Homo sapiens: one gene and its partners. The protein of the gene in region 3 interacts with the protein of the main gene of each other region in a biochemical or structural test. Each region holds a gene or a part of one and is shown on either strand. Other genes may lie near its edges.

Region 1 (3,228 bases), 1.1 Mb from region 3:
CGCTCATCACCATGGCCATCCAGCAGGCGCCCAGCAAGATGCTCACGCTGAGCGAGATCTACCAGTGGATCATGGACCTCTTCCCCTATTACCGGCAGAACCAGCAGCGCTGGCAGAACTCCATCCGCCACTCGCTGTCCTTCAATGACTGCTTCGTCAAGGTGGCACGCTCCCCGGACAAGCCGGGCAAGGGCTCCTACTGGACGCTGCACCCGGACTCCGGCAACATGTTCGAGAACGGCTGCTACTTGCGCCGCCAGAAGCGCTTCAAGTGCGAGAAGCAGCCGGGGGCCGGCGGCGGGGGCGGGAGCGGAAGCGGGGGCAGCGGCGCCAAGGGCGGCCCTGAGAGCCGCAAGGACCCCTCTGGCGCCTCTAACCCCAGCGCCGACTCGCCCCTCCATCGGGGTGTGCACGGGAAGACCGGCCAGCTAGAGGGCGCGCCGGCCCCCGGGCCCGCCGCCAGCCCCCAGACTCTGGACCACAGTGGGGCGACGGCGACAGGGGGCGCCTCGGAGTTGAAGACTCCAGCCTCCTCAACTGCGCCCCCCATAAGCTCCGGGCCCGGGGCGCTGGCCTCTGTGCCCGCCTCTCACCCGGCACACGGCTTGGCACCCCACGAGTCCCAGCTGCACCTGAAAGGGGACCCCCACTACTCCTTCAACCACCCGTTCTCCATCAACAACCTCATGTCCTCCTCGGAGCAGCAGCATAAGCTGGACTTCAAGGCATACGAACAGGCACTGCAATACTCGCCTTACGGCTCTACGTTGCCCGCCAGCCTGCCTCTAGGCAGCGCCTCGGTGACCACCAGGAGCCCCATCGAGCCCTCAGCCCTGGAGCCGGCGTACTACCAAGGTGTGTATTCCAGACCCGTCCTAAACACTTCCTAGCTCCCGGGACTGGGGGGTTTGTCTGGCATAGCCATGCTGGTAGCAAGAGAGAAAAAATCAACAGCAAACAAAACCACACAAACCAAACCGTCAACAGCATAATAAAATCCCAACAACTATTTTTATTTCATTTTTCATGCACAACCTTTCCCCCAGTGCAAAAGACTGTTACTTTATTATTGTATTCAAAATTCATTGTGTATATTACTACAAAGACAACCCCAAACCAATTTTTTTCCTGCGAAGTTTAATGATCCACAAGTGTATATATGAAATTCTCCTCCTTCCTTGCCCCCCTCTCTTTCTTCCCTCTTTCCCCTCCAGACATTCTAGTTTGTGGAGGGTTATTTAAAAAAACAAAAAAGGAAGATGGTCAAGTTTGTAAAATATTTGTTTGTGCTTTTTCCCCCTCCTTACCTGACCCCCTACGAGTTTACAGGTCTGTGGCAATACTCTTAACCATAAGAATTGAAATGGTGAAGAAACAAGTATACACTAGAGGCTCTTAAAAGTATTGAAAGACAATACTGCTGTTATATAGCAAGACATAAACAGATTATAAACATCAGAGCCATTTGCTTCTCAGTTTACATTTCTGATACATGCAGATAGCAGATGTCTTTAAATGAAATACATGTATATTGTGTATGGACTTAATTATGCACATGCTCAGATGTGTAGACATCCTCCGTATATTTACATAACATATAGAGGTAATAGATAGGTGATATACATGATACATTCTCAAGAGTTGCTTGACCGAAAGTTACAAGGACCCCAACCCCTTTGTCCTCTCTACCCACAGATGGCCCTGGGAATCAATTCCTCAGGAATTGCCCTCAAGAACTCTGCTTCTTGCTTTGCAGAGTGCCATGGTCATGTCATTCTGAGGTCACATAACACATAAAATTAGTTTCTATGAGTGTATACCATTTAAAGAATTTTTTTTTCAGTAAAAGGGAATATTACAATGTTGGAGGAGAGATAAGTTATAGGGAGCTGGATTTCAAAACGTGGTCCAAGATTCAAAAATCCTATTGATAGTGGCCATTTTAATCATTGCCATCGTGTGCTTGTTTCATCCAGTGTTATGCACTTTCCACAGTTGGACATGGTGTTAGTATAGCCAGACGGGTTTCATTATTATTTCTCTTTGCTTTCTCAATGTTAATTTATTGCATGGTTTATTCTTTTTCTTTACAGCTGAAATTGCTTTAAATGATGGTTAAAATTACAAATTAAATTGTTAATTTTTATCAATGTGATTGTAATTAAAAATATTTTGATTTAAATAACAAAAATAATACCAGATTTTAAGCCGTGGAAAATGTTCTTGATCATTTGCAGTTAAGGACTTTAAATAAATCAAATGTTAACAAAAGAGCATTTCTGTTATTTTTTTTCACTTAACTAAATCCGAAGTGAATATTTCTGAATACGATATTTTTCAAATTCTAGAACTGAATATAAATGACAAAAATGAAAATAAAATTGTTTTGTCTGTTGTTATAATGAATGTGTAGCTAGTAAAAAGGAGTGAAAGAAATTCAAGTAAAGTGTATAAGTTGATTTAATATTCCAAGAGTTGAGATTTTTAAGATTCTTTATTCCCAGTGATGTTTACTTCATTTTTTTTTTTTTTTTTGACACCGGCTTAAGCCTTCTGTGTTTCCTTTGAGCCTTTTCACTACAAAATCAAATATTAATTTAACTACCTTTCCTCCTTCCCCAATGTATCACTTTTCTTTATCTGAGAATTCTTCCAATGAAAATAAAATATCAGCTGTGGCTGATAGAATTAAGTTGTGTCCAACGGAGACTCATGAACTCTCTTCTCATTAAAAGAGAAACGAAACTTAGCCATCAGGGTAGCTCTGGAGGAGGTGGGAGGAGGGGAGTTAATTCACTCTCGCAGGGGAAGCGTTGTACCGACAGGACATTTTAGGGTAGCCGCTATTTTGCATTTTGTGAAGATTGTTTTAAATTTTGATTCAAAAATGTCGTTCCTAAGAACTTAAAGTTGATAATTTGTTTCCTTCTAAGGAGCTTTTAAATGCAACTTCACACTCCATAGTTGCTTGGGATCACAAAATCATTAATCTCCTTTGATAGCAGGCTCACTTTCCAGTCCACCTATTTCTTTGTAAGTCTTGTTCGGATTGACATCAACAATAACAACACCAGCTCAAGCAGAGGCCTGCCTGCCTGAGCCCTTGTGTATGAACTCCATCCTCACCAGGGCTTGAACTTGGACAGCCTTTACTTTGATCGCCCCACTCCACACCGCGGACAAGATAAAAAGAGCCGTGTGAGTCGCTTAATTATCGCGTAATTGCCT
Region 2 (7,868 bases), on a different chromosome or scaffold from region 3:
CTGGGTGGCCTTGCTCTCTACTTACCTTCCCTAGAATCCAGTTTCCTCATCTGCAAGATGGGTTGCCAAAAGGGTCTAGCTCATTTTTTCTAACTTAAAAAAAAAAAAAAAAAAAACTATGATTACTAGAGAAAAAAATTGAGCTGTGTACGTCAATCCTTTTATCTCCCTCTGTCACCTTCCTTTTTGTGTCCCCAGGAAGTTTTTTTTCCACCCATTTGTAAGTACCAGGGTCTCCTTCCAGAAGCCCAGGCAACTGCTGCCAAAGGCTGTGGGGTGGGCAAAGAGCCCAAGGGACAAGTGCCCAGGACACATCCCTACCCAAACCAACTGGACAAATGCCACCAGTGGTTTCTTCCAAACTGCCCTCGGCAGCCCAACCAGTGGCTCTTTTCCTTTCACCTGCCAGGACCTATATTTCTATTTCTGAGTTTTCAAAGCCTAGGGAGGTGGAGAACCTGGAATAATTAATGATTGATTTTCAGGCACTGCCACCAGGAGGCCCCAGGGCAGGCTGTCGGCCATTTCCTGAGTGCAGGGACAGGGTTGAAATCCCACGTGGCTTCGGCAGGATTGGGCAAGTCTGTGAGGGGAGAGGGTGGAGCGAAAACTGCCAGTGCCCTGAACACTTCTGCCCTCTGCAAAATGATGAAGTCGCTGCTGGAAGTTCTGCTGGGGTGCTGGCCTTCTGCCATTGACTCTCCCCTCTCTCTGGGTCAACGAATGTTAATTGCTGCCCTCACAGACACCCCTGCCCCACTGCTACCCTTGCACCCACGCCTGCACCCACAGGCACGGGCTCACTGGCCCTTTCCTCTCCAAGGCTCCTTTGGGAAAGGATTAAAGGAACCGACTTCCACAGCAAAACTTTAGGGACATTTTAACTTTGCCCTCTTTGGATGTATTCCTCTGCCTTTGTTGTCTAATAATAATTAACTTTTGTACAGAGGTGTAGTTTTCAAAGGGCCTTCACATTCATAATTTTATTCGTCCTCACAACAAAGCTACGAGGTGGGTCTGACCCTCCCCAGCCCCCCGTCTATATCCACATCATGCAGAAGGGGAAACTGAGGTTCGGGCAGAAGAAATCATCCCATTCTACACAATTAGGGCTGGAACACTCACCTCTGATGCAAAGTAGAGAGCTGCTGTTTTCTTCCTGAAGGGATGTACTTTAGTCCCAACAATGGTTCGTTACGTAGGGGAAGTGGCATGGTGGCAAGTAAGCCAGGAGGATTGTTGGGAGCAGTGGTCTTCCCTCGAGGCTGGTCTCTGGGCATTGTGCCCAGAGAAACCAGGGTACATAGGAGTAAGAGGAAGAGCTCATGGACCTACTGGAGTTCAAGGGTCTCAGTCACCTGAGCCAGCAGGTAGAATGACCCAAGTGTGCAAACAATCACCCACCCAATAGTCAGTTGAAACACGGCAGCTTATAAAAGACCCCCAAACCATCCCACTCCCACACTCTAATCAGCTAGGATGACCAATTCATCCTGATTTGCCCGGGAAAGTCCCAGTTTTAACTCGCATCTAGAAAACACTGTTGGTTTTCGTCCAGGGCAAACCAGGGCACTTTATTACCCTACCACCAGCCCAGTGCATTACAGCTGAGTCCAGAAAAGAAAGAACATCTTTTGAAGGCTCAGCAGATCAGCATAGAATTAAACAAATTGTGGGATATTATGCAAATTCAAAAACCACTGTAGTTAGGCAATTACCTAGGATTGTTGGAATGTTAAACCTGAAAGAATGTTCATTTCCACAAAGAAACGCTCAGATCTGCGGCCAGATCTCTTGCATTTTCAAAGGCAAGGCAGAGTTAGTCTCTCGTCTCTACTTCTGTATTTTGATATTGGCAATGAATTACATTTTCTCAAAAAAACACTGAGTTTAAAAAAATTATAACTAGTTGCCAGTTGATAATATTGCCACAAAAGCCTTATGGGCCTCAAGCCTGAGAAGAAAAGTTGGCAAATGAGGTATTCATTTTAAAAAGTGAGTTCTAAGGCCTGGCCAGGCACAGTGGCTCATGCCTGTGATCCCAGCACTTTGGGAGGCTGAGGCAGGCGGATCACTTGAGGTCTGGAGTTCGAGACCAGCCTGGCCAATGTGGTGAAACCCCGTCTCTACCAAAATATAAAAAATTAGTCAGGCATGATGATGCATACCTGTAGCCCCAGCTAGTCGGGAGGCTGAGGCAGGAGAATCACTTGAACCCAGGAGGTGGAGGTTGTAGTGAGCCGAGATCATGCCACCGCACTCCAGCCTGGGTGACAGAGTGAGACTAAGTCTAGAAGAAAAAAAAAAGAGTTCTAAAAGTCCCATTGAAAGTCTATTAGTCACAGTGCAAATTTATTTTAAAATTTCAAATATCATCATAGGAAGGCATATGATTTTTATTCTTAACTAAAAGCATCATGGATTTTAAGTTTGAAAAAATACTGTGATAATAGGTGATTTTAAAAATATATGTATTTCAAACCTTTCGTTTTGCAGAGGAGGAGACTGATGCCAAAGAGACAGAGTTAAAGCACCAGTTAATGACATTTCCTTGGCCTTGGTCTCAGAGAATTAGGAAGTACCAAGGAACCCAGGCCTGATTTCTGATTCTAATTAGAAGCAGGGTCAGTCCAGGAGGCCTGTGTTTATCTCTGCAGCAGAAGTTCACTGCATTCTCACTTCTTGCTCGTCCTAGATCTTCTCTGCTGAGTCTTCTGGTCACCTGCTATGTCACCTGCAGTCTGGAGAAGAGGTACTGTCAAGGTGTGGGGTGTGTTTTTCCCTGAGGAGTAACCTTGAACAGTGCACATTGTTTTTACCTTGAAATGAAATTTTAAAGATAAATTTATACATGGGACAGGAATGTTCTGATAACTTGCTGGATTTGTCCTCTAAGAAATTTTGCCCAAAAAGGGGATAGGAAAGGGAGAGGGTTCATTGCTTGGGCAGAAAAGATGTGCACAGGCAAGAATGATTGCATGAGAGTCAATGGTTATTGGTACGTATCAGAACCTTAGATTGGGTAGAATCTCTAAGGTTGTCAGAGCTGTTTGAAATGAGGGCGTATTAGATTCACCCTGGAGCATTGCCTCCCTGGTGGGAGGGAATCCTGGGTGGACAAAGAGAGTTTCTGCTGTGGCTGCCACACTCCACACCTCCCCTGCAGCAGGACACAATCCAGGGCAGCAAACTGGCCCATGGGGTCCGGAGGACCTATGCCAAGATCCATTTCCATCCCAACACCCTTGGATTGTCTCTCTCTGGGAGGGACTGCCAGAGAAGTTAGGGATCTGGAGCTTTGAAAACCACAGAGATATTTAAAATTACAATTTTAGAGAAAGATTTAAAATGATGAAGCACCAACTATTTTTGTTTACAGCCCCTCTTTGCAAATGTGGAGGAAACATGTAGGGATACACATCTTCTTCTCTCTTTTTTCACAAGATGATTCATTTCTCCTAAATTGAGAAATGAGAAAGACTGGGTGGAAGGAGGTTGTGGATTGACATGAAAGAGAAAACTTTTTTAATTCAGAAAAATAGTTCATGTGTTTTCACACACGTGTACATATGTGCATACACACACACACACACACACACACACACACATCCAATCCCCCTGAATATCCCAGTTTCCCCTGCACCTTCCTTGCCCCCCTCCCACTGGCTTCTTAGCCTCCTGTCCCAGAACAACCCCACCAGGCCTGCAGAGCCATCACTGAAAAGGGCATGGCTGTCCTCTAGACTGTAATCCTGAGTCCAGAGGTCTGGCCAAAGATTGGAGGAGCATCCAGGCCTTGACCCCCAGGCCTGCCAGTGTTCCAGGACATTTGCTCACTCATACCCACTCACAATCTTACGTGTACCCCGGTTCCCCGACTGAGAGAACTATGAGGAAGGAGGGGGCAGCTTTTGCCATCACTAAGGTAAAGAGGTGCCAGGCAGCTCTGCTCGGTCCCAGGGCTCACCAACCCTGCCATCATTCCCACCAGTGGACCCCTTCTTAACCACACCCAGGCCCCCATATTGCTGAGGCTATTGATTCCTACAGACCAGGCCAGAGGTCAGCTCAGTCCTGTTCCTTTCTAAGGCCTTTCCACACAGAGATGAAGTCTAGGCCCTCAATGCCCTTCCCCTGAACTCTTCTTCCAAGTTCAAAATCCTCAAGGAGCAAGAAAGAGGGCAGGTGGCTGCGTGTGTGTTCCAGAGGAGAGAGGCGAGGAGTTGCTGTGGAATGGGTTATGTGACAATTTTGTTAGCCTGACAATGCAAGGGTGTGAACGCTATCTGTGTAGAACAGAGGGAATGGCTTCAGGTGCTGCTCAGGATTCTTCCCTGGAAGAGGTCATAGCTGTGGTGAGAAGGTAATAGCATCTTGCCTACAGCCCCGAAAGCAGGCTCTACCTAAAGAATCAGGCATAAAACAGAAGTTCCCTCCTTCCTTTTACAAAAGAAAAGGCTGCTTCCTGGTGAGCAAACCAGGGGAGACAGGGGGCAAGGAGGGCATCCTACAGAGACCATCCCTCTCACTTCTGGTGGTCAGTGACCCAGGAGGACCCAGAGAACCTCATCCTCAGGCTCCTAGGCCTCTGTTCCCCACTCCTCCAATATTTCCAGGCCTGCTGAGTTAGGGCTCAGCTGCCTCCCTCTTCCCTCCGCTGGAAACAGAAGCTCCCAGCGAATGTTTCTAACTCCTGAGTCCACTCAGCCATGTCCCCCTTGCAAAATCCTCCCCTTCCCGCACCCCCCTGCACCCAGCCAGCCAATCCGCGGCCTACGAGCCTCGCCAGACCCATCTCCCAGGGCCTCAGCGGGATAAAACCGGTCGGTGATGCCGGGTGGATGGGAACAAACTTCAGAAGGAGGAGAGACACCGGGCCCAGGGCACCCTCGCGGGCGGACCCAAGCAGTGAGGGCCTGCAGCCGGCCGGCCAGGTATGTCACCCAGGGGTTAGCTGGAAGCTGGCTAGCAGTGAGGACGGGGGATGGAAGAAAGGAGAGGGTCCCAGGATGCCTGGCAGCCTTTTCCCTCCCAAGTTAAACGGGATAAGACTGGGACAGCGGAGGGAGTGGGCACGGAGGTTGGAGTCTGGAGCTTCTTCAGCGCACTCCCAATCCTTGATCCTCCCGGGAAGCCTGTTAGCTAGGCTAGGCTGAGGTTGGCCCTACTTCGCCTAAAAATCCTCCTACTCCTGGCAGACGATGCAGGTGTAAAGGATGAGGCCTGGGGAGGGGGCCTGAGGATGCAGGCATCGAATCTCATCGCATCTCATGCCCTTCTCCTGGGTTTGTGCAGGGCAGCGGCAGGCGCGGCCCGGACCTACGGGAGGAAGCCCCGAGCCCTCGGCGGGCTGCGAGCGACTCCCCGGCGATGCCTCACAACTCCATCAGATCTGGTAAGAACGCGGTGTGGTCAGGATCCCCGAGCCCCCGCGCCGCTGAGCGTCCGTGCGTGCGCTCGGGTGGTTGGATCTCGAGAGCGTCAGCACGGGATTCGCGGGACCCACCCGCGTGGGGACCCAGCTGGGGCGCCTGGGGCCTGGCCCTCCGCTGGAGCCGCCTCGCTGTTCTCGGGCACTGGGGTTCCACCCGGCCAGCTGAGCCGCCCTTGCCCGGTTTCGAGGGACCACATGGATCGGTGAGGGGATCTCTGTGGAGTTAGAGGGGGTTTCCTTTGAGCTCCATTCCCAGCCTTGCATGGCGCATTAGTGTGGACATTCTTCGTGCTCTGTCCCTGGGCTGCACCGGTGCTGGACTTGCCGTTTCCCCGTCCCCGACCTCTAAGTCCTCTTCCTCGGGTGCGCGCAGTCCTTCCCAGTGACTCCCCTGGCTGGACTGTGAGCTCCCCGCATCTCTCAAGCCAACGGCAATGGAGCCGGTGGTCCCGGGCCCGGGAGCCGGCAGCGCACTCAGGTGCTCTCCGACTCCTCCTGGCCCAGCACCGGGCAGGCCGGGCGCCGCGCGCGGGGCGTCCGGCTGGTGAGGACTAAGCCGCTCGCGGAGTCAAAACCCCCTCCCCACCTGCGCCCGGAAGCAGGGCCTTCAAACACACTCGAGCTCCCAGGCCGCGATGCCTGTTTTCCCCCTTCCCGGCCAGGGCTGGGCAGGGTCTTTGCTGGGAAGGAGCTCCAGGGTCAGGGCTGGTGGGCGCAGCCGTCCCGGCGCGCAGCGAGTGCGGACAGCGGTGGAGGCGCAGCGCGGCCCGCAGTGATGGATGGAGCCCGGCCGGCCGCAGAGAAGGCGATTTATGGGGCCAGGGCGCATCGCTATCGATTTGGGCCGGCGAAGTGAGAGGAAATCAATATTTCAGAATGAATTCTCCGCGAATATGATGTCCCGCTCTGCAAACGGGACATTTGTTATAATAAGGAGGGTCGGATCGGGCGCGCAGCGAGGCTGAGATCTCTATTTAGCCAAGCGCACTGCGGGGGCCCGGGCTCTGCGGCGCAGTCTCCAGTCCCAGGGCCATGGCCCAACTAGGAGGGGAGCGGGAACCCCCTGGGGCGCCGGAAGATTTCTCACTCGGGTTCTCTCTAGAGCTGCAGACGAATGCTCCCTCCCGGCCCCCATTCCCCTCAGAGACCTGGGCCAGAATCGTCCGGCTGCCCCCAGAAGGCGCGGGGTCCCTTCAAGGTCCTCAGGGGAGAGACCTCGCAGCCATTCCCCGGCGCGGCGGGGTTGGGGAGCCCTGGGACCGAGCAGAGCTCCCTGGCACCTCTTTACGGTCCGCGTCCTGGAACCACGAGCGCTCCTAGGCCACTATCTAAGGTCAGGATCAGGTTTTAGTCCCTTAATCTTTAGCCAAACCGTGGTACGATACCAGACATCGCCAGGACCATCCCTGAGGCCTAATGTGCAGTGCCCGGTGCCCATGCCAAGCTGGTGCAATGGCACTTCTGCGCCAAGCTGGTGCAATGGCACTTCTGCTCGGCTCTGGAGGTCCATCTTTCCTCCTAACCTTCCCCTGACCCTTCCGGCGGTGGCAGGAGGAGTGAGTGCTCTCGGAAATCAAATTCACTGTGGCCGGGCTGGACCCTTACTCTCTGCCGCTGCCCAAGAAATGAGACGATGTCCCCGTCCCTCAGATGAGCTTTTTTTTTTTTTCGCGGCTACTTATTTTCATTCTAGAAGTACTCGTTAGAATAGATGGAAATAGAGTATGGAAAGAATAAATAAAGGCACAATTTATTTTTACTGTAGTTTTAATCAGGAACAGTCCCAGATGATGAGATGCGCGCTTTCCCACTAGCTTGGATGCAAATCGCGCTTGGGTTTTGGGAGGGAGCCCTCTGCCCCTGGACCTACCAGGTAATTTTTTTCCCCTTTCTTCTTTTCGGGAAGACAGAGGGGCTTCTTCTACCCTCTTTCCAAAACAAATAGACAAAGTGGCGAGGGAGGGAAGATGAGACTTTCTTCTCATAGTTTAATTTAAACGCTAATAAAACAAGAAAATGGCCTATAACCGCATAGACTGCTGAAGGCGCTCCCTGTTTCTTTTCTGAACCCTCCCTCGGCAAACCTGAGGGAGAGGCCGTCTGTCTTTCTGATCAGCTTACCTGACACTGTTGTCTATAACCGGAGCTAAACTCATAAGCGGACCCCTCTGGTTTTTACAAGCCCATTATCTCTCGGGTTTTAGCAGGTTCCCCCTTTTCCCCAGGCACCTCTGTTCCTGAGACCGGCCGTGCTTAGGGAGCTCCCCTTGAGTTTTCTGTGAGCAGAGCCCGGGACGCAGGCGGCCACACGGCTTTCCGCGGGAGCGAGGCCGAGCGCACCCTTCCCAATAACCGGGGACGCTCGAGAAAACCTCCCCGCGCGGCCTCCGCCGCCCAGCCTGCCACGGGGTCGCCTCGTCGTTGGCTGGTCTTG
Region 3 (7,462 bases):
GGATGACTTGGCGCCCCACCCCCCAGCCTGCCCACAGGCCACGAATTGAGAAAAGCTTTCCCAAAAGGAAAGTCCTCTCAAAGGCCCTAGACGGTCAAATCGGGAAAGGGAGCAGTAGAGGGATCCTTCCTCCCGCTGCGTCTGTGAAAGCCGCCTGTCTGCACGCCCCGGGCTCCCGCGGTCCCTCCCGAGGATTTCGGTTCTGGTGCCTGAGAAAGCAGCGCAGAGGGGGCCCTGCGAGACCCCTCCAGAGAAATCATCCCCCGGAGGCATTCCTCGGATCTTGGGGTTGCGGAGCAGCGCCCCCCAGCGCCCAGTTACACTCCTGCCTTCCGCTCCCTGCGCCTGGTTGCCTCGATGGCACTCGCGAGCCCAGCTCAGCCCGGCTTAGAAGCCTGTGCCTAGCTGTGGGAGACTGCGGGAGCAACTGAGGGGCCCAAGTGTTTCTTGTTGAAGGTCAGAGGCCTAGAGTCACAGTTTCTCTAAATCCAAAATACAGAATCAGAAGGAATAACTCCTTCTATTAGCGACTTTTGTGATCTACAAACTCAGGCACATGATCTCATCCTGAATTGTTTGGATCCCTAGCACAAACCAAGCCAGTACACAGGGCAGGTTGTGACCATTTTTTACAGCTCAGGAAACAGGTGCTCGGAGGCTGTGTTTCCTCAGCGTTTCTCGAGGCACTGGGGGGTTCAAAGATAGATAAAACAGGGGCTCACCCTCAAGGAGGGAAGCCAGAAAACACACACTGGTTTACTCTGGCTGTGATGGGAGTGACTCCAGGGTGTGGCGGGAGCCCACAAGAGCGGTACTGCACAGCTGGAAAAAGGCAAAGCCAGGGTTCAAACCTAGGACGGACTTCCACTCAAGGACTCCTCTCACGACCTTGGAATGCTGAGAGATCAAGAAATGGTGCAAAAACCCACACACGAATCTCCATTACAACCCTCTCTATCTCACTGGATCCTAGAGTAACATCTGTCAGAAAGTAACTACATATTATTTGGGTGATTTATTGTGAATGTGTAAGTTCCGTGTGAGTAGGAGCTGCATCTAGATTAAGTTTGAATTTTCAGGCCTTGCGTAGTCCCTGGCACAGAGCCCTAGCTGAATAAATACTGTCGAGTGAATCAAAAATTGCGATAAAACTTGGAGCAAAATAACACTACCAGGAGACAGAGTGGCTCAGCGCCCTAAACAGGTGTGGAGGACCACAAAGGGAGTTAGAAAAAGCAGTTGGGGGGTGGGGCGGTGAGACAGGTGGTTCCTCCTCACAGTTCCACCTGGTCCAAGCTACAGACCCCAAATTAGCCTTCTTTTGTATGAGCCCTCTGTTCTTGTCTCGCAAAGTGACACTGGAGGGAGAGAAAGGAGTTTCCCTGCGGCCACGCTGGTGTAAGCAAAGGCTGATGGCGATTCCGCGCATCTAGGGCCGAGCCTGGGCCTGCGCCCCCTCGGATTCCTGGCGGAGCCGCAGCCAGCGAAGCAGAGCGTGGTCGGAATAGAGGCAGCGACCGTGTGAGGTCGCGCCAGGGAAAGCTCCGCGAGGGGCCAGCGTTGGGCCCTGCCCTGCCCTGACCGCTCCCCACTGTGCCCACTCCACCCGGGAGCAAGCTAGTTGCGGGATAAAGGAATACGCGCAGACTTCGCAAAGTGCAATCGGGGTTCTTCGTATTCATGGAAAAAAAAATCACTGGTTTAGCCCGGGTCTGCCCTATTTAGGATGAGTCCAGGAGGCGGCGGAAAGAAAGGACGCTCTTCGGTCAGAGGGAGGTGTTTCGGGCCATGGGAGGGACTCTGGAGGCCTTTGCTTGGATAAGCTTGGAGATACAGATGTCCTTCTCTTCCCTACAAGGTGCGTTAGTCTCCGGGCTTATTTTCGGCAGTGCAGTGGTACTGGGGAAGAAGGCAGAGCCGCGTGTTGAGAAGGGGCTAGGGTAGTAGAGGCGCTGGAGCCTGGGCGGCAGGGCGCTGCAAAGGCCCAGGCGAGGTGGATAGAGAGCTTGCTGGTGCGCGCGAGAAGCACGCCTGCAGGCAGAGGTTGAAGCGCCGTCCCAGTTGTGTCCCAGAGTGAAGCGGGAGTCTTTGCCCGCCCCAGCCACTTCGAGCTCCACTCCAGTTCAGCTCCCAGAGTCGCCACTTGCTGCGCGGTTGTTGGGGAGGGGGTTCCTGGTCCAGAACGAGACGTGGGGGGCTGGGGGTTTCCTCGAGAACTGCAGGCCTGGTTGCCCCCGGACTGTCAGAGCCGGAGGCCGGGGAGCTGCCAGCCACGTGCGCCTGTGGCCTGCTGAGAGGTTGAAAAGCTGCCAAGGGACGAAGGCCGAGAAGACAGGACCTAGGGGCTGTGGAAGATTCACCCAACTCTTCCTTTTACTCAGGTCTTGGGACCTAAGAGGGGGTGGGGATAGTCATGATAATAACTACCGCAATCTCCAGTGCTGGCACTGAGCTGAAAAACATTCAAAGCTTTCAAAGCATTTTGATGTGCTTCATCTTACTTGAATCTCACAAAAACCTTGTGAAGATTGATCTCCATTTCTAAATGGCGTTGAGACTGGAAGAGATGTACAACATTCTACACTTGGTGTTCCTTAAACTTACAAACAACTATGAAATAATGGCGAGTGAGAGAAAGAAGCTGGGTGACTGGGAAACCCACCCCGCCTTCGCAATTAGACCCCATTCGGGACTCAGGCCCGGCCAGGTCGCGCCTGCAGACAAGGTCTGTATTCAGCGTTGCCAGTTCTCCTCTGTGGTTCGCTTAAGCCCGGCGTCGCCTCCCCTCCTTGCTTAGCCACCACAGTGATCAATGCTCAGTTCGTCGGGGCCTGAGAGCGCCCCCCAGAGAAGCCCCTGGGAAGGAAGGGCAAGGAGCCGGGCTTCGCTCTGGTCTTTCGCAACACCAGCGGCGAGCGCGTCTCCCTGCGCAAACGTAGGGTGGCCTCCCCAGCTCTGCCGTGGGGACCGCACAAAAACGCGGGCGCAGGTGGGAGGGCGGAGGGTGTCCTGAGCTTTCTTTACCCTGGTAAAGAAGGTAGGCGGTGAGAAAAGCGAATGTTATTATAGAAGTTGGCTTTGTATTGAGGGAGTAAGAGCTCTCTTCAAGGAGAGGGCTGAAATCTTTAAAAATAAATAAAACTTTCTCTACTGTAATTGCTATTAATAAAAAAAGGGAGCCCGGATGAATTAAGTAGCTCAAAACTGCCTGTTCGTCATGATCAGGAGCTCCTTCTCTACAAGGAGGGGAAAGAAAATGTGAAAACAAAAACTAAATTCAAGAAGCTCCTTGACCAGCGCGGGTGTCTTGGAGGCACCTGCCGGGGCCGGCCGGGGAGCGCTCCGCCCTCCCAGCCCCTGGCGCGCAGAGGAGACTAAAACAGCTAAGGAGAAAGCAAAACAAAAACAATGATAAAAACGTTTAAAATCCAAGGACAAAAACCGGAGTCGGTCTCAAAATCCGCGCCGTTCAGTGCTCCACTCGGTAGTCGACTCGGCTGCAGGCCCCGGCCTGGCCGGAGCAACGCGGGGGACACCCCCGATTCCGCTGGGGAGCGCAGCCCACAGCTCCCCCTCGCCAGGCGCCCAAGGACCCTCAAGGCGCGGGGCCCACACTTGAAGCCTGGGAACGCGCAGACAGGAAACCCTCTTCCTCCTAAGCAGTTTCTTGCTCGTCGGATGAGAGGCGCCCAATTGAAGCAGAATGATCCTCATCTACTAATATCCAGCGTGGCCACAAAGCGACTGGCCATTTACGCCACCACTTTAAACAAAGATATTTGGTTATTCCCGGGAAGCAAGAGCACTTTTGCATGGCTGAGCTGCGGGCGGAGGCGAGCCTCGGCCCAGCCTCCCGCCCGCTGAGCTGCCCGCACCTCGGCATTCGCCCCCTCCTGGCCAGCGCTCCAGCCGCCGGGGTTCAGGCTCAGTTCCGCCCGGCAACAGACAGACGGGCACTCACGCCGCTCCCTGCTCGCGCGCTCCCTGAAGCATCAGAGGGGAAAACAGCGTGGCTCTGGGCTCGGGTGCTGGGGCTGTGATGTCCTCGGAAAGTCAGCTCCAGCCCCAGATCCCCGCGTGTCTGGGAGATGGGCGAGGGTCAGGGACACCAGGTTTGTTCGAGGTGGGGCAACTTCAGTGACGGACCCTCCCGTGAGACCCCTTCCCATCCTCCCAGCTCTGGGGGCCAGTGCTGTGTTTGCTCGGCCGGGGGTGGGGGGGGGGGGGGAAGACCTTGGGGGAGGCGTGTTAGCGGGGGTGGCCCACTGAAAAACCCCTGAGCTGCGGGGGCGGGTTGTGGCTCGGGGATCCGGGACAGCCTCCGGGAGGCAGTCGATCCCCTACTCAGCGCCCCCTCCGCCCGCTCGGATTCTCTCCGGTAGGGGGAAAGGGGGCGGGGAGCAGAGGTGTCCCTCTGACGGCGGCAGAAGAGAGGCAGACAGACTGACAGACACGTAGACCAACAGTGCGGCCCCAGGGTTCGTCCCCAGACTCGCTCGCTCATTTGTTGGCGACTGGGGCTCAGCGCAGCGAAGCCCGATGTGGTCCGGAGGCAGTGGGAAGGCGCGGGGCTGGGAGGCCGCGGCGGGAGGGAGGAGCAGCCCCGGCAGGCTCAGGTGAAACCCCCACCCTGTCCCTCAGCCCCCTCCTCCTAAAGACCTGTCCGTGCCCGGGGAACCCCGACCGAATTGGAAAGTGGTTCCACTTTGTAACTCCGCAAGTTGGTTGCAAAGCAGCATTCACCTTCCTTCCTCTCAACCATCTCTCCTCCTCTGTTACTCCCCCACCCCACCTCCTGCCCTCCCCGCTCTCGGTTCCCTCCTCCTTCCCCTCCCCTCCACCTCCTCCCCGCGCTCCGCTGGTACCCCACAAAAAATGGGGGTGGGGGTGTCCAAGGGAGGGGGGAAATGCTTTGGGTCTCGTCTCTGCCTCTCTCTCTCTCTCTTTGAGACCTAAAAATCCTGACAAGTGAAACTTAAAGGTGTTTACCTTGTCATCAGCATGTAAGCTAATTATCTCGGGCAAGATGTAGGCTTCTATTGTCTTGTTGCTTTAGCGCTTACGCCCCGCCTCTGGTGGCTGCCTAAAACCTGGCGCCGGGCTAAAACAAACGCGAGGCAGCCCCCGAGCCTCCACTCAAGCCAATTAAGGAGGACTCGGTCCACTCCGTTACGTGTACATCCAACAAGATCGGCGTTAAGGTAACACCAGAATATTTGGCAAAGGGAGAAAAAAAAAGCAGCGAGGCTTCGCCTTCCCCCTCTCCCTTTTTTTTCCTCCTCTTCCTTCCTCCTCCAGCCGCCGCCGAATCATGTCGATGAGTCCAAAGCACACGACTCCGTTCTCAGTGTCTGACATCTTGAGTCCCCTGGAGGAAAGCTACAAGAAAGTGGGCATGGAGGGCGGCGGCCTCGGGGCTCCGCTGGCGGCGTACAGGCAGGGCCAGGCGGCACCGCCAACAGCGGCCATGCAGCAGCACGCCGTGGGGCACCACGGCGCCGTCACCGCCGCCTACCACATGACGGCGGCGGGGGTGCCCCAGCTCTCGCACTCCGCCGTGGGGGGCTACTGCAACGGCAACCTGGGCAACATGAGCGAGCTGCCGCCGTACCAGGACACCATGAGGAACAGCGCCTCTGGCCCCGGATGGTACGGCGCCAACCCAGACCCGCGCTTCCCCGCCAGTAAGTGAGGCCGCCCCACTGCGGGGCCGCGGGCTGAGCTCAGGAGGTGCGGCGAGAGCCGTCCAGAAGGCGCGGCGCCGGCAGGCTGCGCGCTGGGCATCAGGGAGGGCGGCCCGGCAGCGGCGCCAGGGACTTGGGTGCGGGAGCTGGGGATGCTTCCCCCTGCTCGGCTGGGGGTCCAAGAACAGGCACTTGGTAGCGCTGGGGTCCTGCGGTCAGATGCGGGTACTCGGCGTCTCCTAGGCGCGGTGGACTGGCAGCTCTGCTCGGCGCAGAAGACCTCGGGGAGCCAAGGGAAGCGACCCCGAGCTCAAGGAGCAGGGGCGAGCAGAGCGCGGAGAGGCTAGACCGGGCCAGGAGGGAGGCTGCCCTGTTGGGAGGCACTCGAGCGCCCGGCCCGGCCCTCTCTCCAGCGGAGTCTGGGCAGGTGGGAGGACTCGCAGTTCCAGAGGGGACTCTAAGGGTCCGAGCAGGTGCCCTCACTGGGGCCTGACAGGAGAGAAGCCAAGAGGCAAAGCGTCTGGGGGCTCCAGCTTTTGGAAGTCAACACCCCCTCTCCTAACCTCTCCAAACTGGGGTCTACCGTAGGACCCCAGCTCCCGGCCTGAGCCCAGTTCGCCGCCTGTGGCCAGCTAATCCTAATGCTCTGACCCGGGCTGGGCACGAAAGGAGCAGAAGCGGCCTTTCCCCCACTGCGTCTTTTGGTTCGAAAGAGGGAACTGAGACTGAGGGAGGGCAGCCAGGGTTGGGGCTGTGAGCGCTCCAGTACAGCCCCCTCGACGGTACGGCCTGGGGCAGGCGCTGGCAGTTCCCCGCGGATGGGCCTCTTGGGCCCCAGCGCTAGGCTGCCTGGGTCAGGAGGGCGCCGTCGGTTGGGGCGGGCCGGGCGGGCCAATGGCGCGGAAAACAGGGGTGGCCTGGCTCGGCCTGGCCCCGGCCGACGCTGTGCGTTTGTCGCTTACAGTCTCCCGCTTCATGGGCCCGGCGAGCGGCATGAACATGAGCGGCATGGGCGGCCTGGGCTCGCTGGGGGACGTGAGCAAGAACATGGCCCCGCTGCCAAGCGCGCCGCGCAGGAAGCGCCGGGTGCTCTTCTCGCAGGCGCAGGTGTACGAGCTGGAGCGACGCTTCAAGCAACAGAAGTACCTGTCGGCGCCGGAGCGCGAGCACCTGGCCAGCATGATCCACCTGACGCCCACGCAGGTCAAGATCTGGTTCCAGAACCACCGCTACAAAATGAAGCGCCAGGCCAAGGACAAGGCGGCGCAGCAGCAACTGCAGCAGGACAGCGGCGGCGGCGGGGGCGGCGGGGGCACCGGGTGCCCGCAGCAGCAACAGGCTCAGCAGCAGTCGCCGCGACGCGTGGCGGTGCCGGTCCTGGTGAAAGACGGCAAACCGTGCCAGGCGGGTGCCCCCGCGCCGGGCGCCGCCAGCCTACAAGGCCACGCGCAGCAGCAGGCGCAGCACCAGGCGCAGGCCGCGCAGGCGGCGGCAGCGGCCATCTCCGTGGGCAGCGGTGGCGCCGGCCTTGGCGCACACCCGGGCCACCAGCCAGGCAGCGCAGGCCAGTCTCCGGACCTGGCGCACCACGCCGCCAGCCCCGCGGCGCTGCAGGGCCAGGTATCCAGCCTGTCCCACCTGAACTCCTCGGGCTCGGACTACGGCACCATGTCCTGCTCCACCTTGCTATACGGTCGGACCTGGTGAGAGGACGCCGGGCCGGCCCTAGCCCAGCGCTCTGCCTCACCGCTTCCCTCCTGCCCGCCACACAGACCACC

The links.
Region 1: the proteins of NKX2-1 (region 3) and FOXA1 form a complex in vitro, tested with the Homo sapiens proteins (one study listed by BioGRID).
Region 2: the proteins of NKX2-1 (region 3) and PAX8 form a complex in vitro, tested with the Homo sapiens proteins (one study listed by BioGRID).

The regions. Positions count from the first base shown.
Region 1 is NC_000014.9:37,589,027-37,592,254, reverse strand, and holds the end of FOXA1 (hepatocyte nuclear factor 3-alpha), read left to right. Parts: coding exon 1-890; 3' UTR 891-2,703; downstream 2,704-3,228. UniProt on the Homo sapiens protein: Transcription factor that is involved in embryonic development, establishment of tissue-specific gene expression and regulation of gene expression in differentiated tissues.
Region 2 is NC_000002.12:113,275,897-113,283,764, reverse strand, and holds the start of PAX8 (paired box protein Pax-8), read left to right. Parts: upstream 1-4,843; 5' UTR 4,844-4,934; intron 4,935-5,295; 5' UTR 5,296-5,370; coding exon 5,371-5,395; intron 5,396-7,868. UniProt on the Homo sapiens protein: Transcription factor for the thyroid-specific expression of the genes exclusively expressed in the thyroid cell type, maintaining the functional differentiation of such cells.
Region 3 is NC_000014.9:36,517,207-36,524,668, reverse strand, and holds the start of NKX2-1 (homeobox protein Nkx-2.1), read left to right. Parts: upstream 1-4,436; 5' UTR 4,437-4,539; coding exon 4,540-4,616; intron 4,617-4,989; exon of another isoform or gene 4,990-5,298; coding exon 5,299-5,684; intron 5,685-6,648; coding exon 6,649-7,391; 3' UTR 7,392-7,462. UniProt on the Homo sapiens protein: Transcription factor that binds and activates the promoter of thyroid specific genes such as thyroglobulin, thyroperoxidase, and thyrotropin receptor. Crucial in the maintenance of the thyroid differentiation phenotype.